Regions from separate parts of the Homo sapiens genome. Here region 2 is linked to region 1. The links come from fine-mapping of genetic effects on gene expression. A gene starts in region 1. The other region holds a variant in brackets. All regions are shown on one strand. Distances are from middle to middle.

The links. PIP is the estimated chance that this variant, and not a neighbour inherited with it, causes the effect. A credible set is the group of variants that fine-mapping cannot tell apart.
Region 2: its variant is the best candidate, but not a certain one, in a credible set for the expression of SYT9 in coronary artery (GTEx, PIP 0.63).

Annotation. Positions count from the first base shown.
Region 1 is chr11:7,244,360-7,260,794 of GRCh38, forward strand. SYT9 (synaptotagmin 9) reads left to right here and starts at 7,545. Exons shown (of 7, transcript NM_175733.4): 1 at 7,545-7,972. The coding sequence starts at 7,828. RefSeq lists a silencer at 7,438-7,577.
Region 2 is chr11:7,377,241-7,393,675 of GRCh38, forward strand. The region is part of intron 3 of SYT9 (synaptotagmin 9); the gene reads left to right. Among named protein-coding and RNA genes, the nearest start is that of SYT9-AS1, 80 kb to the right of the region's middle. The variant T/G (reference allele first, on the strand shown) is at 8,726.

The DNA.
Region 1 (16,435 bases):
CAAAATAGAGCTGCTCAATTCCAAATTTGCTTTTATTTCATCTCTCAAGAAAATTCACTCGAAACAGGAAAGAATAAAGCTCACAGATTAAAGGCTATTGATGCCCAAGATGACAGTGATAGTCACAGAACATGAACTCTAAGTCAGTGCTAGTCTCTTGGTCCAGATAAATTATGTATACTTCAGGGTCTAAAGCAAATGTTAGAATGAATACCTTTTTTGGATAATTAGGAAGTTTTTGAGCATTTGATGGGAGTGCTAATCACTAGGAGGTAGCATGGGTTCACTGAGAACCAGTCATGCTAATCAAATCTTATTTTCTTTTGTTAAAGGCAACTATCTGGCAAGTAACTGAATAAAACAAAATGACAATTAATAGAAAGTTTTGCTGTTAAGAATCCCACACCATTTCCCAAAGTACGGAATCTAGCTCACAGGAACAGGGGTAAGGATGTGGTCTAAGAGCAGCATGAAAGATTTATGGGATTTCATCCATGGCATGTTGAGATGCTGTAACCCAAGCAGCAACTCAGAAGCCTGAGGCACAGAGAGAGCAGGAAGTTGATGCTAAAGGGTGAAGGAGTGCTGGGCTCAGCTCAGGAACTCTATTTCAGAAAGGATTTTGACCAATTGCAGCACACGTAGAAGACAGATAAGATGATGAGAGAACCTGAGCAATGTCACACAAAAAGTGGATAAAGATACCGGATATTTGTGTTCTGGACGTGACTTGGAGCAGCAGTGTGGCATGGAAAACACAGGCTCTGGAGCCAGACAAATTTGAATTTGAATGCTGGCTGTCTCCAATAAGCTGGAGAAGTTCCATGGAGAAGTTACTAAACTTCTCTGTTCTTGTTTCCTCATCTGTAAATGTAAAATGGAAACATAATGTGTGCCTTGCTGGGTGGCCAGGATTAAATGCAACAACATATATCAAGTGCATGATGGTATATAACAAATGCTTAATAATGATTAGTTATAATCATTAATGTATATCATTCAGGGACATTGTAGGTGACTTCAAAGATCTTTTTCCAAAGGCCTTTTTCTTTTCTTTTCTCTCTTTTTTTTTTGTTTTTGTTTTTGTTTTTTGAGTCAGGGTTCTATTCCGTCACCCACCAAAGGCTTTTTTCGTCAGCATATAAACTGGAGGTTCTCAAATTTCATTGTTCAGAAGCATTACCCAGTGTCTTATTCTGTTTGTACTGCTGTAACAGGATACCTGAGATTAGGTAATTTAAAAAGAAAAAACATTTATTGTCTTATAATTCTGGAGTCTGGGAAGTCTAAGATCAAGGCACTGGCATCTGGCAAGGGCCTTCTTACTGTATCATCACATCGTAGATGGTGGAAGGGCAAAGAGACAAAAGGGGGCCAAACTCACCCTTTTATAACAGCATAATTCTACCCATGCAAGTGGAGCCCTCATGGCCTAATCATCTCATCAACATTCTACCTTTTAATACTGTTAAAATGGCAATTAAATTTCAACATGTATTTTTGTCCAACCATAGCATCTGGGATGCTCTTTACGAAATAATTGTGTAGGTCTGAGTGAATCCGAGGAACCAGCATTTTCATAAGAAATCCAGGCAATTTCAGAAAAGAAGGCAAGTGAACCTTACTTTGGGAAACATTGATAAAAACATTCTGAAGTCGCTCCTATCTTCAAACAGCTTTTCTTCTATGCACTTTTTTTTTTCAGTTACCATCTTCTCTTTGTCCTTCTCTCAAAAGATTTACTTTTACTTCTACTTGGTAGGTCTAAACAGCAAAACTTCCTAACCAGGGCACCAGGGAAGCTTGATGTGCCACAGAATGGGTAATACCTGGGCTGAGACTTTGATTCCTTCTGCCACAGTCCCTGCTGGCCACCAGTGGCCTAGTCCCTTACCCCCATGTGCTGTAAAAAGTTCACTTTCTATCTATGCCACGACAAGTACAAGACTGAGAAGCACTGCCTTAGAGAGCAAGGATCATTGTTTATTTCTCTATATATTACCCAGGACCTGGAAGGCTTCCTGAGTCACAGGGGACTTCCTCTGTCATGCTTTCTGAATCATAGAAGAATACATATTTGTTCAATGAATGAAAGAACAAATAGTTGGGGAAAGGTAACATATTTCAGCTAACTCTACTTCTTCAATTTCCATGTACTTTTTAATCCTGTGTTCAGCTGGTTCCACCCTCACCACTCTACTATAATTGCAGAAGAACAGAGGCTTTGGAGCCACAAAGATGTGGATTCCAGTCCTGTTTCTATCATTTACCAGTTTTTTGCCTATTTCAGATGTCTACTGCTGCATTAAAAGGTTGCTCCCAAACTCTATGACTTAAAACAACCACCATTTTATTGCTCATGATTTTGTGGGTGAGAAATTTGGTAAATGGGGATGGTTCACCTCTGCTTCACTTATTGTCTGCTGTGCTCATTTGTGGGCTGGAAGGTCCAAGTTCGAGAGGTCCATGGCCTCACTCACATGTGTGAGGTCTTGGGCTGGCTGTTGACTGAGGCATCTATTTTAGTCTTCCAGGGCTACTGTAACAAAATAGCATATACTGGGTGGCTTAAACAATAGAAATTTATTTTCTCACAGTCAGAAGTCTGGGAAGTCCAAGCTCAAGGTTGCAGCCAATTCCATTTCTAGTGAGGGCTTTCTTCCTGGCTTGCAGAGAGCTGCCTTCTCACTGTGTCCTCACATGGCAGAGAGAAAGCAAACTCTTTGATGACTCTTTTTAAAAATTATTTTTTATTTCTATAGGTTATTGGGGAACAGGTGGTGTTTGGTTACATGATTAAATTCTTTAGAGATGATTTGTGAGATATTGGTGCATCCATCACCCAAGCACTATACGCTGCACCCTATTTGAAGTCTTTTATCTCCTGCCCCCTTCCCACCCTTTCCCCTGAGTCCCCAAAGTCCATTGTGTCATTCTTATGTCTTTGCATCCTCACAGCTTAGCTCTGCTTGTGAGTGAGAACATAAGATGTTTGGTTTTCCATTCCTGAGTTACTCCACTTAGAATAATAGCCTCCAGTCTCATCCAGGTCACTATGAATGCCGTTAATTCATTCCTTTTTATGGCTGAGTAGTATTCCATCATATATATATACATATATATATACACACACATATATATACACATATATACATATATACACACATATATACATATATATACACGTATACATGTATATACACATATATACACATATACATATATATGTGTATATATACGTATATATACATATATACGTGTATATATACGTGTATATATACGTGATATATATATATACATATGTATATATACGTATATATGTGTGTATATATATATATATATCACAGTTTCTTTATCCACTCATTGATTGATGGACATTTGGGTCGGTTCTGTGTTTTTGCAATTGTGAATTGTGCTGCTATATACATACATGTGCAAGTATCTTTTTCGTATAATGACCTCTTTTGCTCTGGGTAGATACCCAGTAGTGGGACAGCTGCATCAAATGGTAGTTCTACTTTTAGTTCTTTAAGGCATCTCCACACTGTTTTCCATAGTGGTTGTACCAGTTTACATTCCCATCAGCAATGTAGAATTGTTCCTTGTTCACTGCATCCACACCAACATCTACTGTTTTTTGATTTTTTGATTATGGTCATTCTTGCAGGAGTAAGGTGGTATCGCATTGTGCTTTTGATTTCAATTTCCCTGTTCATTAGTATGTTGACCATTTTTTCATGTTTGTTGGCCATTTGTATATCTTCTTTTGAGAATTGTCTATCCATGTCCTTATCCCACTTTTTGATGGGATTGTTTGTTTTTTTCGTGTTGATTTGTTTGAGTTCGTTGTAGATTCTGGATATTAGTCCTTTGTCAGATGTATAGATTGTGAAGATTTTTCTCCCACTCTGTGAGTTGTCTGTTTACTCTGCTGTTTTTTTTTTCCTGTGCAAAAGCTCTTTAGTTTAATTAAGTCCCAGAAATGTATCTATCTTTGTTTTTATTGCATTTGTTTTTGGGTTCTTGGTCACGAAATCCTTGCCTAAGCCAATGTCTAGAAGAGTTTTTACAATGTTATCTTCCAGAATTTTTATAGTTTCAGCTCTTAGATTTAAGTCCTTAATCCATCTTGAGTTGATTTTTGTATAAGGTGAGAGATGAGGATCCAGTTTCATTCTCCTACATGTGGCTAGCCAATTATTGCAGCACCATTTGTTGAAAAGGGTGTCCTTTCCAAATAAAATACTTAGGAATATACCTAAACAAGGAGGTGAAAGACCTCTACAAGGAAGACTGCAAAACACTGCTGAAAGAGATCAGAGATGACACAAACAAATGGAAACATGTCCCATGCTCACAGATGGATAGAATTAATATTGTGAAAATGACTATACTGCCAAAAGCAATCTACAAATTCAACACAATTCCCATCAAAATACCACCATCATTCTTCATAAAATTACAAAAAACAATTCTAAAATTCATATGGAACCAAAAAAGAGCCCACATAGCCAAAGCAAGACTAAGCAAAAAGAGCAAATCTGGAGGCATCACATTACCTGATTTCAAACTATACTATAAGACCATAGTCACCAAAACAGCATGGTAGTTGTATAAAAATAGGTATACAGACCAATGGAACAGAATAGAGAACCCAGAAATAAACCCAAATACTTACAGCCAGCTGGTTTGATGATTCTTATAAGGAAACTAATCCTATTGGATCAGGGCTCTACCTTTATGACCTCATTTACTCTTAATTAAGTCCTATCTCCAAATACAGTGACATCGGGAATTAGGGCTTCAACATAAGAATTTACAGTTCACTCTATAGCAGTATCTCACTTCCCTTCTGTATGATATTCTTTCTCCACATTGTTTCTCATTCTTCTGGACCCCTCTCCAGCAAGATATCCTGTAAAAGTTGCAAGATCTTTTCAAGTCTAGACTCAGCTCAGAATTTCACTTCTACACATTCTGTTGAATAAAGTGAGTCACAAGGCAGGCCCAAATTCAAGCAGAGGGGAACAGACTTGACTTCTTGATGGGAAGAGTGGTAAAATCACACTCCAAAAGGACACATGGAATTGGAGGGATAGCTATGGCTGTCTTTGGAAACAGTCTACCAATTTGTCCTTGAACAAATTGTTTAACCACCTGATTTTACTTTCTTTGCCTGTAAAATAGGAAATATAGCATCAACCACTTTGGGATGTTGTAAGTAATAGATTAAGAAAGTGTGTTTAGCACCTCGTACATTGTAGTAGAAACATAACAGAAACAGCAAAAACACATATTGGTTGAGCCCATACTATGTGGCAGCACTATTACAAGCACTTAAATATATTGCTTTATGTAATCTTTGTAACAGCCCAAAGATACACGTTATCTTTGAGATAAGATGAGAAACCCTAGGCACAAAAATGTTAACTTGCACAAGGTTGGTTGCATAGTAACTAGTCTGTCTAAATCTTGAATGTCTTACTGTCTACTTTATCCAAAGGACACTTTTTAGTTTTTTCTCTTTAAACTATATTTGAAAGTTTACAGTTGATGTTGCTCGCTCCTCTACCAAACACTCCTCCTCCCGTGATCCCTATGACTCCCCTCTGTACAATCTTTCCTCCTGTTCTCATTGCTACCTTCCAATCTCCTCTTTCATTTCTTCAACTCTTCTTTCTTGAAGGAACCATCCCATGTGGCAACTCAGTTTCTACCTTTCCAATGATGATTGCCAGTCTTCACTCTCTCCTAAACTCTAGGCTTGCATTTCTAAGTGTTATTAGGGTGTGAGCACATATGACCCAGGTAACGTTTTGAAACGTTTGTGCCTTTCACTTCTTTCTTATTCCATTGGTTGCAATCTTGTCACTTAATACTTGAAATGTTTTTCAAATTTGGATGTTTCTAGCAATCAGCTAATGCCTTTGGCCTGGTTTAGGCCTTCATCATCTCTTGCCTGGTTTATCAAAGTCATTTTTTAACTGAACTTGTTGCTTTCAGTTCCTCTCTGACATGATGGCATTAGGGTAATATTTCCATGTGCTTCAACACACATACCTTCTCACCATTACTATATGTCCCCCCCGCCACCCCCCCCCAGCATCACACTATCTCTGGTGTCACCTTCTCTGTTCATGGCCTTTTTCTTCTTCTCTAGGGGTTCCCCCCTTTGAAGAAACAGCATCTGCTCAACCTCCCCTACAGGCTCCCTTAAAGCTGGTTTCTCCTCCCTCTGTTTGTCTCTTTGCAACTCTCTGGAGGCATCTTTACCTTTACAACTTTGCATTTTCTCTGCTATTCCCATGTAAGTTCCCTGAAACCCTAGTACCATTCACAGCAGGATTTCAAAGGTTGCCTGTTGCGTGAGCATTCTATAGGATCCCAAATTATCTTTCTGTGCAAATATGAATTGTTGTGATATGTCCGTAGAGACGGCACAACCTCATGGCTAAGAATGATAGTTACCAGTTCTAGAGATCCTACTCTAATTGCTCTAGAGTGGGGGCCTGAACACCAGTATTACAAAAAAGACAAAAGAAAAAGAAGGAAAAAAGAAAAAAGAAAGAGAGAAAATCAAAGCTACCTTCATCATGTATGAATTTGAGCAAGTAACACCTTTGTGAGTCCCCAGGCCCCAGTTTCTCATTGGTAAAATGAGGATAACAATTACACAGACCTTGTTGGGCTATGTACAGAATTAAATGAGATTATGTACCTAAAAGGCTTGTGGCACAGTGACACACACACACACACACACACACACACACACACCCAGAGTACTTCGTGGTTATTTCTAGGCTTTACTGCTTGAAAGGCTGAAAAGATGGGTGGATGAGAGGTGCCCTGAGGTTCCTTCCAACTCTCCAAGATTCTGTGATACTCCTCCTTGGGTGCTGAAGACACTTTGGCAATGTTTGGATTTCCAAACGGTTGCTTAGAAAACTAAGGGACCCACGAAGCCCAGGTAAGCCTCAGGGTCTTTCCCAGGAATCGTTTATTTATTTGATCTTAGTTCTGACCTAGAGCCTCCACCTTCTCCATCCAAATCACCACAGTGGTCGAAAAGGGCCTGTGCTTGGGAAATCCTTCCTTTGTTGGCGAATCTTGGACCCAAACCCTGCATTTGGGCATCTGACACCCATAGGCCCATGGTTCAAACCCAGGCGGCTCTTTCCAAGTTCGAAGCAGGGACTCGGTTCTGCGCATCTGGCGGGTGTGCCCAGATTGTAACCTTCGCACTAGGCATCCAAGAACGTGCTTTGGACACACTCGGCGGTGGGAGCGGGTGCTTGGTTTGCATCAGGGATGAGGGGTGGAGTAGCGAAAGCGCCCGGAGCGCGCACTCACTCACACTCCCCAAGCCAGGGCGCGGCCGCTCTGGGCGCGAGGTCCCAAGCCAAGTCTCGCGCTCGGCCAGGAGCCGGGGAGTACCCCAGGTCCCCGGTCTGGGGCCGCCGCTATCCTACCCTGCGGCGCGCACTCCTGACCTGGCCCCGCCCCCCGGCGGCCGCGAGTAGCGGGCGGAGCGCAAGCAGAGAGGCGCTCTGGGCTGTGCGGCACCGCCTCTCCTCGGTGTCTGGGGAGGGACGGAGGGACCGGGCGGGAGAGAGAGAAAGCCTGACCGACCGGCTGGCGAAGAGCTGCATGCAACCGGTGGGAGGCCGGGCCGGCTGGGTCTGGGGCTCGGGCTCAGGCTCGCACCGTTTCTCGGCAGGTCCCTGGCGGTGAGCGCGGACGGCCCGGAGGCGGCGGCTCTGAGCTGGCAGGCGGAGGGCTGTCTCCTGCGCCCGCCTGCCCGGCGCGGTCCGAGGATGCGGGGGGGCGATGCCCGGGGCCAGGGACGCGCTCTGTCACCAGGCGCTGCAGCTGCTGGCCGAGCTCTGTGCCCGTGGGGCCCTGGAGCACGACAGCTGCCAGGATTTCATTTACCACCTGCGGGACCGTGCCAGACCCCGGCTCCGCGACCCAGGTGAGTGCCGCCACCGCCGCCTGGAGGGACCTAAGGGCCCTGGGCTGGGACTTGGGGCCGCACCGGGGCCTGAGGCAGAACAGCGACGCGGACTGGGAGAGGGCGGGGGGCGGCCACCGAGCCAGGAGAGTGATCAAGAACCAGCGCACTGTGGCCTGATGCTGTAACCAGGCGGGGACCCGGGCGGTGGCTACTGCACGGAGGCCGACTCCGGGTCGGCTAGGGCAGGGTTGGAGGGACCACGCCCGCCACCTGCGCTCCCATCGCCAAGGCTCCTGGGGGCGGCTCCCTAGCTCCGAGCTACGCTCTCCACTTCCCGGGCTATCTGCACTCAGAGCGAGGGGAGGCCGCGGCGGCCTCGGAGCCGTGGGAAGGGGGACGAGGCCGAAGGAAACTCTGGGAAGTTGGGAGTTGGGGACGGCCCCGGGTTGGGGCCGAATCCCACCGGGTGCTGCTCATCCTTTCTCCCAAGCGTCTAGTTCCTTTCCTTGGTATGGGGTGAGAAGGGCGGGACGCGATCCGGCGTTGGGCCGGGGACAGGGTGCTTCTGGCCTTGGGCAGACGGGCCTGAACCCGTTCCCGGCGGGTCGCACGGCATGGAGGTGGCCTGGGCCTGGGCGCTAGGCTCGACCAGCGACTACCGCCGGCCACGATGGGGTTCGTAGACTCGTCGGTCCTGGCTTGTGCACCTGTAGTTACTCCTAGTGAAAGTTGCAAAGCTCTTAACTTTGGAAAGTTCATTTATTTTGGCATTTGACCAATTAAGGTTGGAGGAGGGAGTTTTAGTGGAGCCATTTGCTTTTCCTGAGGTCCCTGGGTCTCCCAGGTCGTCTCATCCGTTACTGGCTACTGGAAAATGCATTCCTTCCAATGTTTGCTTGAGATGTTTCTCACCTGGAGAAATAGTTTTCTCGAATATTCTCCCAACCTAAGTACTTACCAAAACAGCATATTGTGGTTGGATTGTTAAAAATGGGATGAGAAAATGGCCTTTCTCTTGATATTGCTATGTATAAATATTGGAAATGAGCTATTGCCTTGCAAATTATGATGTACGAATTGAAAACAATTTATTATATAAAAATCCATTTATCCAAAAGATAAATTAAAGAATTATTTGATTTATAAAGAGTGTCACACTGAGCCAGACTTAAATAGCATATCCTTGATATATTCAAGATGGTCGTGTGGGGTGAAGTCATCTGCTAAAATTTTAAAGTTTATATCAGATTTTCCCTACCAGAGGCTTTTTTTTCCTATTGAAAAAGAAAAAAATATTGTTTTCCATTGCCGGTGGTTATATTAACTAAGTTTATTGAATGATCATTGATATATTACTTCAAAGTGGATAATTGGGTAGAGAAATACTGATCCCAGTGGTTTCCAGGGAGGTTTAATGTCCAGCCTATGTGCATCTCATTGCTGGATGTGATGTGCTGAATAAACCACAGTCCCTTATCTCACAAGCTGGAGTCCCAGGAAGATGTCTTAAGTCGGGGAAGTTCGTCCTTAAGCAGCAGAAGCAAGACAATTATTTTGCATGCTTTGCCCAAAGCAAGTATTAGTATTGAAACATCTCACTTCCTTGCCTGTGACCAGACCACGAGTTCTCCTTGTTATCCCACATAAGCAGTTGTCTTTGGCTTTACAAGAGAAGATGGATGAGGCCTATCTCTGAATCACATCTTTTTGGCCAGTTTTCTGCTTCTACTCCTTTTAATCCGGGAGCTGGATCCTGTGTTCTCAGATTCTCTTCAGCCCCTACACCAGGCAACCCCTGAGAAAGAGTCACTAAGTAGGCTTCTTACAAGAGGAAATCTGATTCCTTGGCGGAGGAATAGCTAGAGATAGGAGTCGACCTTGCTGCTCTGAGTTCCTGATAGCAGTGCTCTGCTTTCTTAAACTAGGACACAAGGGTTTTGAAGTAGCCCCATGCCCCTGTGGCTCTTTGGTTTTTGTTGGAAAGTAGCCAGCTCATGAGGACAGGGGTGGGGGTTTTCGAGTGCAAGGTGAGAGGAAATGAGGCCAAAGATTACATCCAAAGTGCACCCTCTCCTTCAGGACACTTCTCCCTTCATTTCCAAATCTCCCTTCATTTCCCTCCTTCCTTGCCTTGCCGACATTAATTCTTACATCAGATGCATTTGTCTTCATCCCTCTGAAGCAAGAGTGTCTTTAATCTCGGAACCCTAAAAGCTGAGTAGTAGAAAAGCTGCACCACACAACGCCGTGTGAATAATGTCCCTGCTGTTGATAGTGTGAACCAGAACAACCATGCACAGCAGCCCTGAGACATGGGTTCCTAGAGAGAGTCATCTCGGTAAATGGATGACTTCTTTTTCTGGAAAGGAATCCACCTGAATGCCATGTCCCAGCTTTCTCTGTTATTGTCCATTCACGGCCACCCTGTGATAGCTAGGTTTTCTCAAGCTGAACTAAGGACTTTGGTTATAAAAGGAGAAAAAAGATATAATTTCCTGTGGACAGCAAAGTGACCCTGCATCTAGGAAATTTACTCATTTTTTCAGAGGTGTGGAAAGACTAGGGCACAGACCAGCGGGCCTGAGCCATCAGAAAGGTTCTTTTTTGTCCAGGTAGTTATAGTGCCCTGTTGGGGGAGTACCGCACCCAGATTTCCCTGACTTGGTGTTCACAGAGGACTTGATGCAATTGTGGTTTAAAAAAATAAGCCTAAGTCACAGTTGGAACTGAAGTGCCTCACCCAGTCTGTCATCTGTACCAACTTGTGGAAAGGAAAGTGCTGAGTGTGAGCACTTTTGTCCATAGAAAGCAATTAGAATGCTCTGTTGGTTGCCTTTATGGTGTTTTATATGTTAATGATGTGGGACATAAACTTGCAGGCCTCAGAGACTAGCCTTTAAGGCAGAGGGAACAGCAAGCGCAAAGGCCCTGAAGTGGTAGCATTATTGATATGATTCTAGAAATGGTGACTTCAGAGGTGGCTGGAGAGGTGTGAAACAGATGGAGAGTGATAAGACGTGTATGGTCAAGAGTTAGAGAGGGTGGATCATGCAGAGTCTTGTAAACCATTATAAAGACTTTGGTTTTTACTCTGAATGAGATAGGAAGCCATTAGAAGGTGCTGAGCAGAGAAGTGACAACACTTTGACTGCTATGTTGAAGAGCAAAGGTGAAGTCAGAGAAACCACTTAGGAAGCTATTTCAGAAATCCAGACAGAGGTGATAGTGACTTCAACAGGGATAGTGGTAATGGAGGTGATGAGAAGTAATTGGATTATGAATGCAATTTGCAGGTACAGCCGCAAGTATTTATTGAAGGAAGAGATGTGAAAGGTGAGAGAAGGGCAATTAAGGATGCTTCAAAGGCTTTTTGACCTAAAAAATTCCATGTACAAGTAGAAGTCTTCAGGAAGAAGGTAGGGGTGAGGAGGGAAATCATGAGGTTTATTTTTTATTTTATTTTAACTTTTTGTAACACATTAAGTGTGTGATGCCTCTTTAGATAGCCAAGCTGTTTTACAGTTGAACAGTGACCTGAGGTATGACTATCCTCTTTAATGTCAATTGCTCTATGCTCGTATTTTTTAACTGGAGACTTCGCTGTCAAGAAGATTAATTGGTTATAGAACAGTATGTATTGTTAGAAGGTTTTCCTTGTAGGGAATTAAAAGGTCTCTTAAATTTCTACCCATGGATCTTGATTATACTTTTTTTGGTCAAAAAGCATTAGTCTTATCTCTCTTCTCCATCATACACCTTTGGCTATTAGGAGGTAAACTAGCCTAACTTATCTAGATCCACTCTTTCCAAGGAACAGAAAGGAGGATTGGATCATGTAATGACTAGGTCTTAAACATGTTTTTATCATTTTCTTTTTAAGTCTTTTCTTCTGTAGGGTGCCAACCATGTCTGTGCCAAGCACTTTATGTAGGTCATTTCACTAGTCCTCACAAGTCTTTTAAGCACTTATCTGTGTTCCAGCAGCAGCAGCAGCTGCTGGGAGCTTGTTAGAATTGGAGATCTCAGTTATGTCCCAGACCCACTGAATATGAATCTGTATATTAACAGGATCCTCAGGTGAGAGTTGTAGGCACATTAAAGTTCAAGAACCATGGCTAAAAGTGATTGATATATATGAGTAAACTGAAGTCCAGAGAAGTAAACTAGCCCAGGGCCATGGAGTCCATTTAAAAGAAGAATTGGGTCTAAGTGAAAGTAGCTTCTTAGGTAGTCACATCACATGTACTGAAAACTGAGGAGTTATTGTCAATGAAAATTTTCTAGGTGTTTTTCATAAGAGCCACCCTTAGACCTACTTTCTCTCTTCTGTACTTGTATGATGGATTTAATCCCTAAGTGTAGGTCACATTCTATGTAGTTGTAAAGATTCAGCTTAGTATTTTTGATTATGAATTCTGTTATCCAGGATACTGGTTTTCCATTCATGTTCCAACTCCATATTCTGGAGATTTTTCTGCATGTTCTCTGTGTCTGTACCCAATGTTTAGAAAAGGTTCAGCAGGTCAGAGTATGAAGCAGAGCCTTAAGACTCATGATTAGTGATTCTTCTCTCCATGTAAATATTACTCTATTCAAGAAAAGCTTTTTCTAGGTCATGGTTTTCAACTTTGGCTGCACATTAGGAATACTTAGGGAGCTGGAACAAACAAACAAAGAAAAAACAAACAACAGCAACAACAAAAACTACCAATGACTGGGCTGCACCCTAGACCAGTTTTAAATCACAGTCTCTGGGAAATGGGCCTGGTATCAGTATTTTTAAAGTTCATCTATTGATTCTAATGTGCAGCCAAGTAGAGAACAACCTTTGAGACCATTGGGCAAAGAATGCATCCGCCTAACCCTTCTCAGCTCAGCTCACATTTGTTTCTTGCAAAATTAGGAAAGATAGTATCAAAAACTAGGAACCTTGACTGTTACCCTGTACAGCTAGTGCCCATATCAACTGATTCTTAACTTTCTTTTCCCAACGTTATCCTACATTTTTCTTTTAAGGGCTCATTGAACATATCATAAGGCTCTATTATGTCCACCAATCTGAGAGGGGAAAAAACAAACAAATCAAGAAAAATCTTGTCTAAATAGTGTGTCATTAAAAGGTCAGAATATAGAACCTTCACAAATGTCACCCTATGTTAAATTATAATGAAGTCACTTATTAGAAAATGTACATGTAAAATAATAATTAAATATAGTTTCTATGAAAAAAATCTCCAAAATAATCATCAAGATTAAATATTAGCCTTGATTCAAATTTTTCTAAGGTAGTCAAAAGAGAATCAGTCTTGAAACACTGGATGTTTATGAATAGACCTTGGTGTGATTATGCACAATGGGATTAATTTTTTTAAATTAATGTTAATTGCAATCAGGAAAAAGAGTCTTCTAAGGAATGAGTGGCATATTGGATGCACAATATGTGAAGATCTAATTTGCATTTACTTCGGTGACATTTCAGGGCTCCTTCATAAATATTTTATTTAAACAAGTGTGTTTTCATCTCTGCGGGACTCCTCTACATGGACCAGTGAGTGGTTTAGTCATGAGGTAATTATCAAGAGGGGAAAACAAAAGCAAATTGTAGTAAAGGCATCACAGGCAGCCCTATGGCCAGCTGCCTCTTTCAAAATAAACAATCAAAAGCACAAACTTTTTGATGTGGGATAAACTCTCAAGGAAAAATTAAACTGACACCTAAAGGAAATCATCCTCAAATTTTCTATTATGTATAGAGCATAGATGTTGCTTTCACTGAAGTAGCATTGAGGCACTTTTATGTTTGTGCTGCAAGTGCAATTTCCCATATGGTTGGCTTAAAAACATTCATAATCTCTTCCTAACAGGTTGACTTGAGGGAACTAACAAGTTCACACTCCAAAGTGTATAGAGAAAGTGGAGGAGCTTAGTGAGAGGCATAAATGGGGGAGCAATCTCACTTTTAAAAGGACAAGTATGGAGTATGTATTTCTATTTTCTGAATGAAGTTTGAATAAAATCACCATTTGTGGAGAAGTTTTCAGTTTTCACTGCAATCTTGGAGCAATAAATGTGCATCACGACTTCCTTTTCTTTCAAATGTTTATTTGGTGGGCTCTAGGAAGGGCTTTAGACCACATCAAATCCTGAGGACCAGGCTTTGCAGATCTCTTTGAAATCTTCATATGGCCTTGCACATGTATTTTATCACACAAAAACTTTAAATCAACATTGATAGAACTGCACTTGAAAGAAAAAAAAATCTTCTAGGACATCAAGATGACAAAGTGGAATAAGCAAGGACTTTGGAGTTAGAATCTGACTGCACTTACTACCTTAGTGACCTTGAGTAAAATATTTAACTCTTCATTTTATTCATCTATAAAATGGGAGTGGAAGATTGCTGTAACATTGTGCCCAGAGTAAATGCTCAAATAAATGATCAATAAATTGATGTTGTTGGTAGTATCACCTGCCCATGTTTCCTTTCAGCCGTGGTCCACAAACATGTATATGTTTTACCATTTGTAATTATTTGTAGGCTAAATTTACTTTCTACTTTTTTGTAAACTTAGCATTTTATTACCTCTTATTAGCTGTGTGTTCCTGGACAAGTTATTTAACCTCTGTGTCCTCATTTTCTCATCAGTAAAATGTATTACTAGTATCTGGGTTACTAGTTACCCAGATAAAATACAGGCTGCCAGTTCAATTTGAATTTCAGATAAACGACAGGGAATATTGCATGGCACATAATTATACAAAACAATCATCTGTTGTTTATCTGAAATTGAAGTAGAACTGGGCATCCTATATTTTTATTTGTGATGCTGACAACCCTATACTAGTACCTATCTCGCAATGCATGCGAAATACCATAGTACCTGGTATATGCTCATAGTAATTACACGTAGTAAATGCTCAATAAATACTAGCCATTATTTCTATTATTATAATTTTCCCATTGTTAACACTTATTAGTACGTAATTATTATTGTTGTGATGACTATGTATATTCCAAGAATGGGTATACCTTTTTTATTTAACCATTCTTTTGAGGCTATTCTAGCTTGTAATTTTTTTTTAGTGTGAATAATGTCTTGTATTTATAGTCCCCTGTTTCCTTTTGGGAAAATTTTTTCATGATAAATTATAAACAGTGAGCCCTAATTGCTTTCTGGTAGATCTATGTTAGTTAGTCCTGCTACATGTCAACAGTAAATCCGCTAGCATTAGGTGTATAATGTGAACAAAAGGTTGCTAATTTAACATGGTTTAAACAGCTGCTTAGTTGTTTCAATTTGTGTTTTTTTTGTTGGTAAGACTGAATATTTTTTGTTTTGAACCTTCTTATATTTACTCTTAAGTGAATTTTTTGTGTTCTCTACCACATTCTCTATCATGTACCAGTTTATTTTTTGAGAATCTTAATGTTTTTTTCTACCAATTTCCATTAATTAGAATGTAAATATTCTGTCAAATTAGCTCACAGAAGGAATATTGTATAGTGAATGAGCTCAGGTTGTCTGACTATAATCAACCCATTATATTAAAGTGTCTTTTGAAATTTCAGGGGTGGTTCAATAAATAGGGATTCGTTGTAACACTCTTTTCCAATGCAAAATGCTGCATTTATTTATATGAAATATGAAAAAGTTGTTATAATTTGAATCTCTTTTTCTTTATGTTTTCTTTCCCACTCCAACCTACCCCACCCTACCCTTGTGCAGCTGTTACTTAACCACGTTGAATTGATCAATCTTTTCTAGTTATAATTAAGTTAAATTCCAAAAACATTTATTGAGGGCCCCTTAAGTGCTATGTACAAGGTTGGGCATCTGTCATTCAAAGATACATTAGACATGCTTACTGCCTCTATGGAATTGACATAAAACAATAATGGCAATTAATAAAATCAAGAAGGGAGATATCTACTGGATACAGTACAGAAAAAAGAGGAGAGAAGTAATTAGCTGACTTGAGTGGATCTGCAGAGGCTTCCTACAGAAGTCTATTCTTGGGCAGAAGAGTTTGTCTGGAACTAGTTGGTGGGAAGAGCATTCTAGGAATTTACAAAGGTCCTAACACAGAAGAGGATGGATCCTGGGTAACAGTAAGTTGAGTGTGTGTTGGCAATGTTGAGAGATGGATCTGCTCTAGTAAACAATGGTCAAATCAGATCACGAAAGCCCCTGTATGCCATTGCCAAAAACCCACTGAGGACTAACTGGAGCACTCTGACACAGAAATCTTGAAAGAAGTACAATTTATATCATAAGCCCAAAGCAAAGCACACCAGGAGATTTCAGTTCCATGAATGCAGCTTCTGAAGTCTTCCTGGTTCCTTATGGAAAATATACTCAGGTTACTGGCAAATATGTTCTTTCTGTCCAAGGTAAGGTCCTAACAGATTGGAATCAATGAATGGAAGTTTACCCATTTTAGATCCCCAACATATCACCCTGAAACCCAACTGTAATTACC
Region 2 (16,435 bases), 130 kb after region 1:
AGTTAACATATGTATTTCAGACACTGTGCTAAACACTTTACATATATCAGTTTATTTAACTAGAAAGAGAGTGAGAGAGAATTATTATTGTCTCTATTTGAAGCACATCTGAGAAGTCTTGATTATTCCTAAGCTACCTTTTATTGGAACAAAGCCTTTTGTTTCCCTCAAGAGTTTTAGGAAATTGCACTGGACCCAGAGGGAAGTGTTCTTCAATGCCTGTGCTTGGAGGAAAGGCAGATCCTCTTTTACTAAAGCATCATTTGCCCTATTTCACAAGCAGGATTCAGTCAAGGTAGCTTCTCTTTCTTTATTTTTTTTTCTTTTTCCCACCAGCTTCAAACGCAAAAATAAGTTCCTGCTGATAAAAGGTGAGAGGCAAGGCCATCTCTTGGCCCTTCCACAAGGGTGGAAACATTGCATGGAAAAGGGAAGAATCTGGAGACACTTAATTCCCAGTCCAGCTCCTCCAGTTTCCCTCATATCTCCGCCACACAAGAGAAGAGAATATGGCCACTTCCCTCTTTACTAGCCACTAAGAGCTTCTTAGTCTATGCATGGGCTCCCCACTTGGGAATGGTATAGGCTCTGTAGTCAGACTGCCTGGTTGGGGCATGGCTTCAGCACTAACTAGCTATGTGAGCTTGGACAAGTTAATTAACCTCTGACTCTGGATTCTTCTCTATAAAAAGGCCATAGCCCAAGGTAAAAGTGCCAAAAGGAAGAAGATATAGCTCCTGCCTTCAGCATCTCAGAGTGGCAAATATATCAAATTCCATGTGGTAATAGGAACATAGGCAGAGAATTACCAAAGCAGAGAGCACAGGCTAGGAGAGGCCCTGAAGATTGCACAGAGAGGTCTGGGTCTTCAAAGATACAAAAAAAAAAAAAATTACCAGCAGAGAAGTGAGCAGGAGTTATTCAGGAAGAAACAGCACACAAAGAAATGAAAGAGAAGGTTTGCGATGAGTCAGAAGGTGGGTGTGGGGGTTAAGAATAGTTTAGCCTGATTGGAGAATTGAGTATGTTAGGAGAAAGAACTGCTGGAAAAGTCATTTTTTATATAATATGCTAAGGAATTTGGAATTTAACCTAAGAGCACCCAATATCCATGGAACGATTTAAGCTAGGAGTGAAATAATCAGATCTGTGTTTACACAGAGGATGCATTGGAAGAGGTAAATTGCTCCTGAGTAATCTTTCAGAGACTGAAGGAAAAGAGTTGTAATCAGCACACATTTTACAGTTAGAATGAACATGACTTGGTGACCCAAGTACTAAGCTCTAAGAGTTACATGGTAATTGTGATGGAGGAACAGTTGATGGAGATGGAAGAGGGATGAGGGAGGTGCATAGTGCTCCTCTCCAGGGAAACATTTAAAAAAAAAAAAGAAAAAAAATCCTATGTCCTATGAGTATCCATGGAGCAAGTCTCCACCCATGGTAGAATAAAATATTGCCTTTTTCTTTATGATTGTTCATACTACTGAGAATGTTGGCTTAATTCACTTGCTGCCATGCTTCTCTTTAGAAGGCATCTTTACTAGAGAATCTCATCATCCCGTCTCCCATAAACTGCAGGAATTCTTAGTTTTGATGGGAAATTTCAGGATGACGAAGATGCTGAGAATGCAAGGTCAATTCAAAATTATTTCCAGCTCATCTTAATGTGTTCTTTTCTTCAAAAGCCGATAAAACACACTGTGGCAGTCAGAGCTAGCAAACAACACTCAGTTCTAAGGATGCTTTGATATTCCCACAGCTTTTAAATAAAAAACAATTTTTCATCTCCAGTTACTTTTGGGTTTTTTCTTATTGAGTATTGGTAGATTTGTAAAAAAATGAAAATAAAAAAGTCTTTTCAGAATAGGTTCTTAACATCAAATTAAATGCTAAAGCCTTTCTGTAGCCCTTTAACTTTGAAAACTGCTGTCTTTGTTTTAGCCAAGGACTCTCCTTGACTAGACATGCTCCCTGGGGAAATAGGCAGAGTTTTAAAAATCATGTTTGAATTTCAAAGTATCTATTAAGAAAGCATGTTAGAAAAAATAAGAGGTTTCCAGTACCCCAAATTCCTGTGTCAGGTGCACCAAGGATTGAAAGGCTTCACCTCCTTTTTCCCATATCCCCTTTTAAAGTACATGTGTTCCTAGGATGCTGAATTAAGCATTATTATTCAACAGCCCTCATCATTTCTGGTCTCTCAGTCTCCGTATCTTCCCCTCAGATACAATGCATACTCCAAACAGATTGTGGTTTTAGACTGTGATAGAGAAGAATATTCTAAATCTTCTTGTGTCTTCTCCTTGTTGGTCTTCGTTCTAATCATTGGAATCATGAAGAAGTTTAGTTTCTCTTCTGTGTGACTGACACCCCTCCAAATTTGTGCTGACAGGAATCTTGTGTTTCTTTAATGTTTAATTTAAATCTTAATAGTTCCTCATTACTCCTTATGTAATCCTGACCCTCTCTCATGGTGGTTACTCAACTGTCTTTCATCTGCTTACATATCTCTAAAATTGAGATTACCATCCAAAAGGCAGGCAATAACAAATGCTGGCAAGGATGTGGAGAAAAGGGAATGCTTGTGCACTGTTGATGGGAATGTAAGTTAGTATAACCACTATGGAGAGCAGTTTGGAGGTTCTTCAAAAAGCTAAAAATTGAGCTACCATATGATCCAGCAGTCCCACTGCTGGGTATATACCCAAAAGAAAGTAACTCAAAATATTAAAGAGATATCTGCACTCTTATGTTTGTTGCAGCACTGTTTATAATAGCTAAGATTTGGAAACAACCTAAGTGTCTATCGAGAGATGAATGGATAAAGAAAATGTGGTACATATACACAATGGAGTACTACTCAGCCATAAAAAGGAATGAGATCCTGTCATTTGCAACAACACAGATGGAACTGGGGATCATTATGTTCAGTGAATTAAGCCAGGCACAGAAAGACAAACATCATATGTTCTTATTTGTGGGATCTAAAAATCAAAATACTTGAACTCATGGAGATAGAAAGTGGAAGGGTGGAAAGGTGGGAAGGGTAGTGAGGGGCTGGGGGAGTGTGGGGATGGGTAATGGGCACAAAAAAATTAGAATGAATAAGACCTACTATTCGATAGCACCATAGGGTGACTATAGTCAATAACTTAATGTACATTTTTAAATAACTTAAAAAGTATAATTGGATTATTTGTGACTCAAAGGATAAGGGGATGGATACCTTATTTGAGGGGATGGATACCTCATTTTCCATGATGTGCTTATTTCACATTGCATTCCTGTATCAAAACCTCTCAGGCACCCCATAAGAATATATACCTACTTTGCACCCACCAAAATTTACAAAAATAAAAAATATATAAGTAGCACAGCAAAAAATAAAAACAGAAAATAAAAAAATAAAATTAAGATATTCAGAAAAGAATTAATGTCTCTAGTGGGTTATGGCTGGTGCACATCCCTTTCTGTCCAGACTATACCTCTACTGATACAGCCTAAAGCAAAATGAGTTTCTGGTAGCCATATCGCATTTTGATTCAAAATAAGACTAAACCATAAAGCCTTTTATTTTCACATGCATTAGGTTGCATCTACTTCAGATGTTGTATCATTGACTTTTTAGGCCCTCAGATAATTTATCTTGATACATTTATATTGTTAGGCCTTATTGATCTTACCTATCTGTCAGAATCTTTATGGATCTTGATTCTGTACTCCAGTGTACTTATTATGCCTAGTGTGCCATACCGAAATTCTATTTCTCCTTCTAAACAATTGATAAAATTACAGAACTGGATAATACTTAGGTTGTTGAATCATTCGTGGCATGCTTTAGCTATGGTTGTCAAACTAGATTATAAATTCACCTCATTTTACTATCATCTGGTCTAAATCTATCCAGATCATCCATAAGGGTATCAGGAGAGAGCTTACCAGATGTTGTGTCAAGGTCCACATTTACTGTGCCTACAACAGCTCCCTAATATGTGAGTCCAATAGCCTAAGTTAAAAAAAAGGAGGTGATATTGGTCTGGTATCATCTGCTTTTAATGAATCTATTGGGACACAATGATTTTTAGGGGTTCAGAAACCATACTTTTTAATCAATCCCAGTAGCATGCATGAGATGAGCACTGAGCTTACTTTTCCAAGAAAAGGACTGAGCTCTTTACATTTACCTATATGGTTTCCCTCTCTGCCAGTTAGGGTCCTTGGCCACTGCCCTGTGGTGAAGCTCTGCCCTGTCATCCTAGACAGTGGGCCCCTATGGAGCAGAAAGAAGCCAGTTGCCTCTAGTACTGAGAAAAGCAGAGTACCTGGTAAGCCCTCAGTGAGATATTGTTGGCTAAGTTTGTCACAGAAGAGAGTGTCTGCCAAATGTACCACACCTTCCCTGACTGTTTGGGACGTGTTTTGAAATGTGAAAGACTCAAATCCCAGCAGTGCAAAGCTGGACATCATGTCATTCAAGACAAGCTAGAGCTGTCTCTTTTTTTACAGGAAGGCACAGAGGTTACTGAGATTGAGCAATTATTACACTTACTGTCATTAAATTCTTCTTTGTGTTATTGTTATTATCAATCCCATCTGCCACTGCAGCTCTAGGATACAAGCAGCTTCCTACGTGGTGGATATGAGATAGGAGCCTTCCAGCCACTGGTACTCCAGAAGCCTTTGGAGGAGGGGAATCCCAATCATGTGGGGAAGGAAGGAACTATAATGTCTCATCATCTCCACAAGCAGAACCAAGCCTTTTCTGAAGCCTTTTGTGGGCACTCACCTGTGTGTCAGTGCATCAGCCCAGACTGGGAAGCCCAGACTCAGAGTCATGTTGCAGTGTAGGCATGAGGATATGTAAACAAGCAACTGAGGCTCCCTTCTATGCTGTGCAACTCGTGTATGACATAGGATCCTATGATATTAGCTTGTCATAGCAGCCATCCTGCCCAATGGTCTCACTTCTCCTTTTGCCTTCATTGTTCTACAGTAGCGCATGTGAGAGAGATGGTGGTATCTTAAGATAGGGTAGCACTATGGAAAAGGAGAAAATTGGACAAATTCTAGATATTTTTGGAAGTATAAATGTCATGACTTGCAGATGTGGGAAGCTGAGAGAAGAGGGGCAATAGAGATATGATGACTACCAGATTTTTAGCTTTAGCCACTGAGAGGAATTTTTTTTTTCCAAACTGAGATTCATCTTGCCTTCAGGCAACTTAGGTAGGAAGGCTGTGAGCAAGGGAGGAAAAATTAGCTCCATTTTCAAAATATTAATAGTGAGTTGCTTATTTGATCACTAAATAAGAAAACACTTGTATATATGAGTCTATGGTGCATGGAAGAGATATAAATGTTGGAGTCATTCACATATAAATGGCATGTTAAACCAGGGAACTGGAGAAGATCAGATATGATGGCGATGTGAATGCTTTTCGTTGACCGTAAGGAGCTTTGCACATAATGTGATGTTGTTATCTTGTCCATTCCTAGCTGAACATATCATTGGCCAAAGAAAATTATTTTCAAATTGGGGCTAGTCCTAGGTAATTAGACCTGGAAGCATTTGAGGGAGTAATTCAGAAAGAGAAAAGGAGTGGGCTGATCCCAGACCCTTCCCATCCCATGGCCCTGTGAGGCTGCGGAGCTTGCCGGAGCCCCAGCACCAGCTCAGAAATTGTCATCCTCCAGGCACACTTCCAATTCAATTAATCATGTTAATATCTATAAGTAAAGTGCAGTCAACAGTTACTTTAACAGTGAATGCTAATTATTAGTAGGATCCATCGCTTAAGAAGGACTTTTTGCCAATCTTGTCATGTCTGGGGAAAATATCAGGAATAGAGTTGGCATTTCTGAGAAAATAGGATGATCAAACTATTAACGTCGTCCATGTTATAGGTGGACCCGGCTTGGACCATCAGTGTGATTATTACAGGTGAAGATTAAGGACACTTGAGAGAAATGTTACAATTAAGATTTCCTCTCCCCTTGCTAAATAAATGGTTTCTTGCTGTTGCCTCTCACAATGGTTTTTGCTTTAGAAAGAGGCTCTGTAAGTACAGGATTTCTCAGTTAGCCAGTAGTACTAGGAAATATGGTGGCTGGGAAGGAGGGAAGGGAAACCAGATGTCCCCAGAGAGCCCGGTGGCTCACTGGACATTTGATCCAAAGACCCCAGGAAGCTGGGCTACTGAGGGTGCAACACATATCCAAGGACCCTCGAAACTTTCCTTCATTTGCACATCAATTCATTAGTGAAAGAAACAGGGACTGGGCCACTCCTAAGTTGCAGTCACTGGGGAGAGGTGGGTAAGTGGGCCTTCCCCTTGAAAAGTACCCAGACTGGTGGAAGTGACAAATGTGTAATCAAGTGTAATAACAGCTACGTCATGTTCAGTATTTACTGCATAAAGACATTTTCTCATTTAGCCTTTTTATCAACCTTATGCTGTAGATATTAGTTTCCTTTTCCAAAGGAGGAGAATGCGAACAGAAAATTGAGAAACTGAGAAATTACATAGTTTATTTCACGTTGCAGAATGATTAAATGAGGGGTCAAGACTTGAATTCAGCTTCAGTCCCTTGCACTATATGTCTAGGCTGCACGAGTTTTTAAATACAAGTGAAGTCATCTTTTGGGTTAGACTTCTAACCTCAATTCCCTGTCTTCAGAAATACTTTCAGCTACTTTGTTTCTTTTTAAATATGCTTCCATATTTTATATAAAATGTTAGATTTGACTTGATTTTTAATTTTATATTTCTATTGAATTTTATTATGGAAGATGAAGATTTAGCTCTTAAATTCACTAGCCACACACACACACACACACACACACACACACCCTCACACCTTACTTCCCTCTCCCATTTTCTCAAAATCGTTATACACTTGTGGAGATAATTATTCATGTTTGTATCATTATTGTTATGTAAACATGATGTATAGCTGAACCATGTATGTCTCTGTGGTTACATTCTTTTTTCCTCCCAGGAGTTGGTAATTTGTATCTCTAACCTGAATCTTCCCCTGATTTCCATTCTCTTATATCTAATTGGCTACTCAGCATCTGCATTTGGATGTCTAATAGGCATCTCACAATTAATGTATGTGAAACTGAGTTCTTGATCTCTCCCATAGTCCAGTACTTCTCCCCCTCCACTTGGAAATGGGTGTTAATGGCAATTCCATCTCTCCACTTGCTCAGGCAAAAAATTCTGGAATTGTCCTTGACTCTTCTCTATCACTTCTTCCATTAGAAAATCCTATTGCTTTATCTTCAAAATGTGATGACCTCTCACCACCTGCACTGCTTTCTTTGGAACAAGCCATGTCACCTCTCACCAGGTTCACTGAAGTAACCTTCTAACTGATGGCCCTGATCTCCCCAGACTATTCTTAACACTGCTGTGGGCTATCCTGTAATAGTGCTACTTGAGCTGTGTTGTGCTACTTTTCTACTTCAATCTTTGTAATGAATTCCATTCCCACTCAGAGCACAAGCAAAAATCCTTTCATAGTTTACATGATCTGATCCACCACAGCCTCTCTGACCTCATCATTTTCAATCTCTTTGTTTCTCACTATACTCCAGCTACACCTGCCTTGCCCTTCCTCAAATGCAGAAGGCTACTCTCTCACCTCAGGGCATCTGTGCTTGCTCCTCTGTTTGGAATTTTCCCCAATTAACTGCATGGCTTGCTTCCTTACCTCATTTCTCCAGGTCCTTATTCAAAAGTCACTCTCTCATAATGCCTTTCCTGACCTCCCTATTTAATATATTATTTAACTCCCCACTACTTAACTCCCTTTCCTGCTTATTTCTTCCCATTGCATTACATATGTGTATTATATGTATACTTCTGTATATGTGTGTATATGTGTGCATGTGTGTATAATTTATTTTGCTCATTGTCTGTCTTCACACACAAGAAATATAAGCTCCATGAGAGTAAATAATTTTTGCCTGTTTGGTTCACTGACAGATTCCCAGAACCCAGAGTACCAGGTACTCTGGTACAAATAATTGCTTTCTGTAAATGTTTGTTGAATGAAGAATAGAGGAATGAACTATATTGTTTTTGTTTGCTCTGTGTGTGTGTGTGTGTGTGTGTGTGTGTGCGTGTGTGTCCATGCAGCTAATTCATCCCAAACTCTGTCAGACATTTAAGTCTCTTAGTGAATACATCAGGTTTCATTTCTTTCTATAGAGGACAACATTTTAGGACAAAGAGCATGCCTGGCAGTGGTGTAGGAAGGCAAATGAAAAGAATCAGATTGAAAAACTGCCTGCTGGGTACTATGCCTATTACCTGGGTGACAAGATAATCTGTATACCAAATCCCCATGATACACAATTTACCTATATAACAAACCTGCACATGTACCCCTGAACCTTAAAAAAAGTTTAAAAAAATCAATACATAAAGCAAATATCTATATGCATGAGTCAGTTTCTGGGCTCTCTGTGCAGCTCCACTGGTTTATTTACCCTGCACAAATGCTACACTAGTCCAGTCCATCCTGGACACTAGTTCAGTTGCATTCTCATAAGTTTTCCTATCCAGGAGAGCAAATGTTTCTACTTTGCTTTTTATCAAAAGAATTTTGGTTATTCTTGGCACTTTGCATGTCCAAGTAAAAATTAGAATCAGTCTGTCAAGTTGGAATCTGACCGTAATTATATTTAGCCTGTAGATAAGTCTGGGAAATATCT[T/G]CACAATATTGAGTCTTCCAACTCATAAACATGGAGTATTGCTCTATTTATTTAGACTTTCCTTAACTTTGCTCAATAATATTTTTATCTTTTTCTGCAGAAAACTATTGGACTTTTTGGTAAGTGTATTACAAGGTATTTCATATTTTTAAGGCAGGTGTGAGGTTTTTTCTATTTTTATTTGTTTAACCTGTTTTTTTTCTGGTATATAAAAAAGCAATTTAAACCCTGGAAGAAAACCTAGGCAATGCCATTCAGTACATAGGCATGGGCAGGGACTTCATGTCTAAAACACCAAAAGAAATGGCAACAAAAGCCAAAATTGACAAATAGGATCTAATTAAACTAAAGAGCTTCTGCACAGCAAAAGAAACTACCATCAGAGTGAACAGTCAACCTACAGAATGGGAGAAAATTTTTGCAATCTACTCATCTGACAAAGGGCTAATATCCAGAATCTACAATGAACTCGAACAAATTTACAAGAAAAAAAAAAACAACCCCATCAAAAAGTGGGTGAAGGATATGAACAGACACTTCTCAAAAGAAGACATTTATGCAGCCAAAAGACACATGAAAATATGCTCATCATCACTGGCCATCACAGAAATGCAAATCAAAACCACTATGAGATACCAGCTCACACCAGTTAGAATGGCGATCATTAAAATGTCAGGAAACAACAGGTGCTGGAGAGGATGTGGAGAAATAGGAACACTTTTACACTGTTGGTGGGACTGTAAACTAGTTCAACCATTGTGGAAGTCAGTGTGGCGATTCCTTAGGGATCTTGAACTAGAAATACCATTTGACCCAGCAATCCCATTACTGGGTATATACCCAAAGGATTATAAATCATGCTGCTGTAAAGACACATGTACACGTATGTTTATTGCGGCACTATTCACAATAGCAAAGACTTGGAACCAATCCACATGTCCAACAATGATAGACTGGATTAAGAAAATGTGGCACATATACACCATGGAATACTATGCAGCCATAAAAAATGATGAGTTCATGTCCTTTGTAGGGACATGGATGAAGCTGTAAACCATCATTCTCAGCAAACTATCGCAAGGACAAAAAACCAAACACTGCGTGTTCTCACTCATAGGTTGGAATTGAACAATGAGAACACATGGACACAAGAAGGGGAACATCACACACCAGGGCCTGTTGTGGGGTGTGGTGGGGGGATAGAAGCGGGGAGGGATAGCATTAGGAGATATACCTAATGTTAAATGACGAGTTAATGGGTGCAGCATACCAACATGGTACAAGTATGCATATGTAACTAACCTGCCCATTGTGCACATGTACCCTAAAACTTAAAGTATAATAAAAAAAAAGAACTATGAGGAATAACCCTAAACAAAAATAATAAAATAAAATGTGCTTCTTGAAAATAAAATAAAAAAGGCAATTTATTTTTGTTTCCTGAGCTTGTATCCACTCTATTAATCATCATCAGTAAACATGCTTATAAATTTTAATAATTTATCTGTAGTTGTCGGAATTTATTTTGCATATCATGTCGTCTAACGATAATGACAGAATGAATTCTTTGTGCCAAAACTTTGTACCTTTTCCTTCTTTTTCATTCCTTATTTCACTAAGACCTCAAATACAATGTTCAATAGAAGAGATGATGTACCTTATTCCTAACATTAATTAAAAAGCTTTCAACATTTCACTATTAAATACACCATTGCTGTAGTCTTGTTTTTAGATGCTCTCTTTAAGAAAATTCCCTTTCCATATCTGGTTTGGATGCCTGATTTCATCACATTTTCTACATTCATTTAGATCAACTATAAGTTATCTCTTTATTCTCTTATGGGCAGTTAAGTTGTTTAAATTTCATATGTTTAATCAACCATGTAAACGTGAAAACATGTATGTTTGTAATTCATTGTATTTTTCTGGATTCAGTTTTACATTTTGTCTAATTTATTAAAATCTCAAGTCATAACTGAGATTGAACTGTAATTTTGCCTTTCTTGTAATGGCCTTTTCAGCTTTTAGTACCCAAAATATTATGTCTAAAAACTATGAATTGGGGAATATTCCCTCCTTGTGTATTTTTGGAAATATTTGCACATATTGCGTTTACTTCTTCCCTAAATGTTTAATAGAATTCACCAGTGAACCCAACTGCACCTGAAATTTTCTTTATGGTAAGGTTTTTAATTACGGATTCAGTTTACTTAATGAGACATAGACATTCAGAGTCAGTATTTCTCATATCTAGTTTATGAGTTTTGTGTTTTAAAGAACTAGTCCATTTAATCCAAATTTTAAAATCTATGGGTATAAAGTTGTTTGTAAAATTCTTTTATCTTTCAATGCCTTTAGGATGTGAAGTGGTGTTGTATTTTCAACCATGACATGGTTATTCGTGCCTTTTTTTCTCTCCTGCCCCTTTCCTTTTTCTGTCTTGAAAGAGGGCTATTTTTATTTGCCTTTCAAAAGCTAACTTTTGGCTCGTTAATCTTCCCTAAATATACTTATTTTCTATTCATTATTTTCTGTTCTTGTATTTATTTCCTTCATTCTACTTAATTTGTTGTTATGTTCTAGTTCTTTAGATAAATGATTTGATCACTGATAATTGGCCTTATTTTGGGCTATTTTATGCATTTAAAGCTAAAATATTTCTCAATATAATTTTTTAGCATTTTAAATGTTTTGAAATTTATTATTTTTATTATCATAGAGTCCAATGTATATCTGTTTTTCATCCTGTTATTTATTTTGACCCATGTTTTATTTAGAAATATTTTCAAATGTATGGAAACATTCTAGTTATCTTTTCATTATAGATTTCGAGTTTAATTGCGTTATGATCATTCCTCATCTGATCTAACATCTTTGCCAGCCCTACTGTTAACTAACCTCCTTCCAGAATGTTTTTCATGACATCAGCTTTGGTCTCCGGGTGAAAATGTGTGGTGGTTGGGTTCACAAGCATATGGACCACAACCACATCTCCCCTTCCCAGTCCAGGAAAATATGTGTGAAAAGGAAATTGAAGTGAGGACATTGTGTGGTTGTTTAATAAAGGGTTAAGTCACTAGGCTTGGTGTGCTTGAACCTGCACATTCTAAAGAAAGTACCAGCTCTTTACTGGTTCCTGAGAGATAATTTCTAAACCCTTAGAATATTCTGCCTAAGAGTTCTTTATATGACAGAACTTGGGCCAATACAGAAAACTGTAACTCTGAATATAACAGCATTTCTGGGTCCTGTGAGTCCTTCTAGTGAATTATTGAACCTGAGGATGGTACTGGGGACCCCTGACACAATGGTACTAAAAAAATATTGAGGAGACTGGGGTATCAAAAGTGTATTAATTTCTTGCCCACCTTGTGTGACCTTCTGTAAAGCCAATATTTAATAAGTTTGCTGATATAAATATACAAGTAGTATTAAAGAATAATTCACGAGGACTTCCAGTTAAATCCATCAGGTGAAAAACATAAGATGCTACCCCCATTATCTCTTGAGAACTCCCCCATAAAATGAGAGTAGATGAACTACAAAAGGAATAAGCAATAGAAGACTTTTTGCTTTAACCATTCAGTTATAAATGCAATTAATTTATATTGTAGGACATTATGAATGTCCTACAATCTTAGGCAAACCAACATCACAAAAGACAAGGTACAAAATAAAAATATATATCAACTCATCACTGAATAAAAAGAGACTAAAGCGAGAAGAAAGTATTCTAATTAACATCTATCACTAAGGACCAAGCGAGATCAGTGAAAACAAGTTATCCAGATAACTTTTGGAGAAATTTCAGAAGGCATAAGTACAAAGTAAAAGTATGAAAAGACAATCTTAAAACCTGCTTGGGAGGAAAAAAAAACCTACATAAGAATGGCATCAAACATTTCAACTGAAACATGAAATACAAGAAGACTTTGTGATGTAAAATGATTCTGAAATACAATAATTTTAACCTAAACTCTATGCCCAGCCAACTTTCTGTTAAGAATTAGAGCACAATAAATACTAATTTTTATTATACTTTAAGTTCTAGGATACATGTGCACAACGTGCAGGTTTGTTACACAGGTATACGTGTGCCATGTGGGTTTGCCGCACCCATCAACTCGTCATTTACATTAGGTATTTCTCCTACTGCTATCCCTCCCCCAGCTCCCCACCTCCCAACAGGCCCCAGTGTGTGATGTTCCCCACCCTGTATCCATGTGTTCTCATTGTTCAACTCCCACTTATGAGTGAGAACATGCGGTGTTTGGTTTTCTGTCCTTGCAATAGTGGTGGTTTCCAGCTTCATCCATGTCCCTGAAAAGGACATGAACTCATCCTTTTTTACAGCTGCATAGTATTCCACTGTGTATAAATATTATTTTAACTACCTGTGAAACTCACTGGAATTTTTTAGAAGCCCTTAATGACATACTCAAGCAAAATGAGCCATGTGTCATGGTTTTCATTTTGGAAGGATAGATGATGGTTTTAAGAAACGGTAGCAGTTACAGAAATGAGAACATTTTAAACATGGTTTAAATGTTTATTAATAATTTGGCTGTGAAACATAATGGAATAGTAAGAAACCATATGTAAAATAAAGAAGCATAATAAATTCTAGAGGAAGATTTGGAAATAAAGTTAACAAGCTTCATTTAATTGACAAATAGAAATTTGTCCCCTATGAATAAAGCATACATTGTTTCCAAGTGCATTTGAGCACAAATAATAGAATAGAATGGAATTTAAAAGTGGTTGAAACCATCAGGGCATATTCTCTGAACTCAAGGCAATAAAGCTACAAGACAAAGATATAGTCCTTTGCAAAAATCCATCTTCTCAAAAATTTTTTAATTTCCGTTTTTAGTTTGGATATCGGGGGTACATGTGCAGGTTTGTTACGAGGGTGTGTTGTCTGATGCTGAGGTTTGGGCTTCTATTGGTCCTGTCATGGAGATAGTGCACATAGTGTCCAATAGGAAGCTTTTCGGCCCTTGCACCCCTCCCTTCCTCCCTCCGTTTGGAGTCCGTAGTATCTCTTGTCCCCATGTCTATGTCCATGTGCACCCAAAATTTAGCCACCACTTATAAGTGAGAATACATAATATTGGTTTTCTGTTTCTGCATTAATTCAGTTAGAATAATGACCTCCAACGGCATTTGTGTTTCTGTAAGGACATGATTTTGTTCTATTCCATGATGTATATGTACCATATTTTCTTTATCCTGTCCACCACTGATGGGCACCTAGGTTGATTCCATGTCTTTATTATTGTGAAGTGTTGCAGTGAACATACAAGTGCACCCCTCTTTTTGGTAGAATGATGTATTTTCCTTTGGGTATATACCCATAAGTGAGATTGCCAGGTCAGATGGTAGTTCTATTTTTAGTTCTTTGAGAAATCATCAAACTGCTTTCTACACTGGCTGAACTAATTTAGATTGCAACCAACAGTGTATAAGCATTCCCTTTTCTCTGCAGCCTTACCAACATCTGCTATTTTTTGACTTTTTAATAAAAGTAATTCTGATTAGTGTGAGAGAGTATCTCATTGTGGTTTTCATTTGCATTGTGGTTTTCATTGAGCATTTTTAATTATGTTTATTGAATGCTTATATGTCTTATTTTGAGAAGTATCTGTTCATAGGCCAGGCATGGTGGTGCATGCCTGTAATCCCAGCACTTTCGAAGGCCAAGGTAGTCAGGTGACTTGAGCCCAGGAGTTTGAGACCAGCATGGACAACATGGTAAAACCCCATCTCTAAAAAAAAAAAAAAAAAAAAAAAAAAAAAACCTAGCTAGGCGTGGTGGCATACGCCTGTAGTCCCAGCTACTCGGGAACCTGAGGTGGGAGGATCACTTGAGCCCAGGAGGTCGAGGCTGCAGTGAGCTATGATTATGCCATTGAACTCCAGCCTGGGTGACAGAGTGAGACTCTGTCTCAAAAAATAATAATGTCTGTTCATGTCCTTTGTCCACTTTCTAATGAGGTTTTTTTTTCTTGTTGATTTGCTTAATTTCCTTATAGATTCTGTATATTAGTCCTTAATTTAGATGCATAATTTCTGAATATTTTCTCTCATTCTGTATGTTATTTACTGATAGTTTCTTTTGCTGTACAGAAGCTGTTTATTTTAATTTGGTTCTACTTGTCAATTTTTGCTTTTCTTGCAATTGCTTTTGAGGACTTAGTCATACATTATTTGCTTAGGCTGATATCCACAATGGTATTTCCTAAGTTTTCTTCTAAGATTTTTATAGTTTGAGGCCTTACATTAAATCTTTAATATATTTTGAGTTAATTTTTGTATATTATGATAGATAGGGGTCCACTTTTTTTCTTCTGCATATGGTTGTCAAGTTATTCTGACAGCATTTATTCAATAAGGAATCTTTTTGCCATTGCTTATTTTTGTCAGTATTGTAGATCAGTTGGTTGTAGCTGTGTGGCTTTATTTACTGGTTCTCTAATCTGTTGCAATGGTCTGTATGTCTATTGTTCTACCAGTACCATATTCTTTTGGTTACTGTAGCTTTGTAGTATAGTTTAAAGTAAAGTGATGCCTCTGGCTTTGCTCTTTGCTTAGGATTGCTTTTGCTATTCAGGCTGTTTTTTTTATTTTTTGTTTCATATGAATTTTAGAATAGCTTTTTCTAATTCTGTGAAAAATGACATTGCTAGTTTGATAAGAAGAGCACTGAATCTATAGATTGCTTTGGGCCATATGGACATTTTAACAATAGTGATTCCTCCAATCCATGAGCATGGAATATTTTTTCATTTGTACTGCCTATGATTTCTTTCAGTAGTTTTTTGTAGTTCTTCTTGCAGAGATTTTTCATTTCCTTCATTAGATGTATCCCTAGGTATTTTTTGTGTGTGTGTGTATTACAAATGGGATTACATTATTGATTCCATGCTCAGCTTGAACATTATTGTTGTACAGAAATGCTACTAACTTAAATATGTTGATTTTTTATCCTGAAACTTTACTGAAGTTGTTTATCAGGTCTAGGAGACTTTGGTGGAGACTTAAGGGTTTTCTAGGTATAGAATCATACTGTCAGCAAAGAGAGATAATTTGACTTCCTCTTTTCCTATTTAGATGTCTTTTATTTATTTCTCTTGTCTGATCACTCTGGCTAGAACTTCCAGTATTATGCTGAATAGAAGTGGTGAGAGTAGGCATCCTTATCTTGTTCCAGTTCTTAAGGGGAATGCTACCAGCTTTTGTTCATTCAGTATTATGTTGGCTGTGGATTTGTCATAGATGGCTCTTTCTATTTTGAGGTATGTTCCTTCAATGCCTAGTTTGTTGAGGTTTTTTTTTTTTTTTATCATGAAGTAATGTTGAATTTTATCTAAAGCTTTCTCTGTGTATATTGAGATGATCTTTTTTTTTAATAATTCTGCTTATATGGCCAATCACATTTATTCATTTGCATATGTTGAGCCAACCTTATTCTGTGTAATAAAGCCTACTTGATCATAGTGAATTAACATTTTGATGTGCTGCTGAATTAAGTTTGCTGGTATTTTGTTGAGGATTTTTGTTCTATGTTCATTAGGGATATTGACCTGTAATTTTCTTTTTTGTTGTTTTGTCTTTGCCAGATTTTGGTGTCAGGATGATACTGGTTTTCTAGAATGAGCCTCCTTCTCAATTTTTGGAATAGTTTCTGAAGGACTGCCTCCAGCTCTT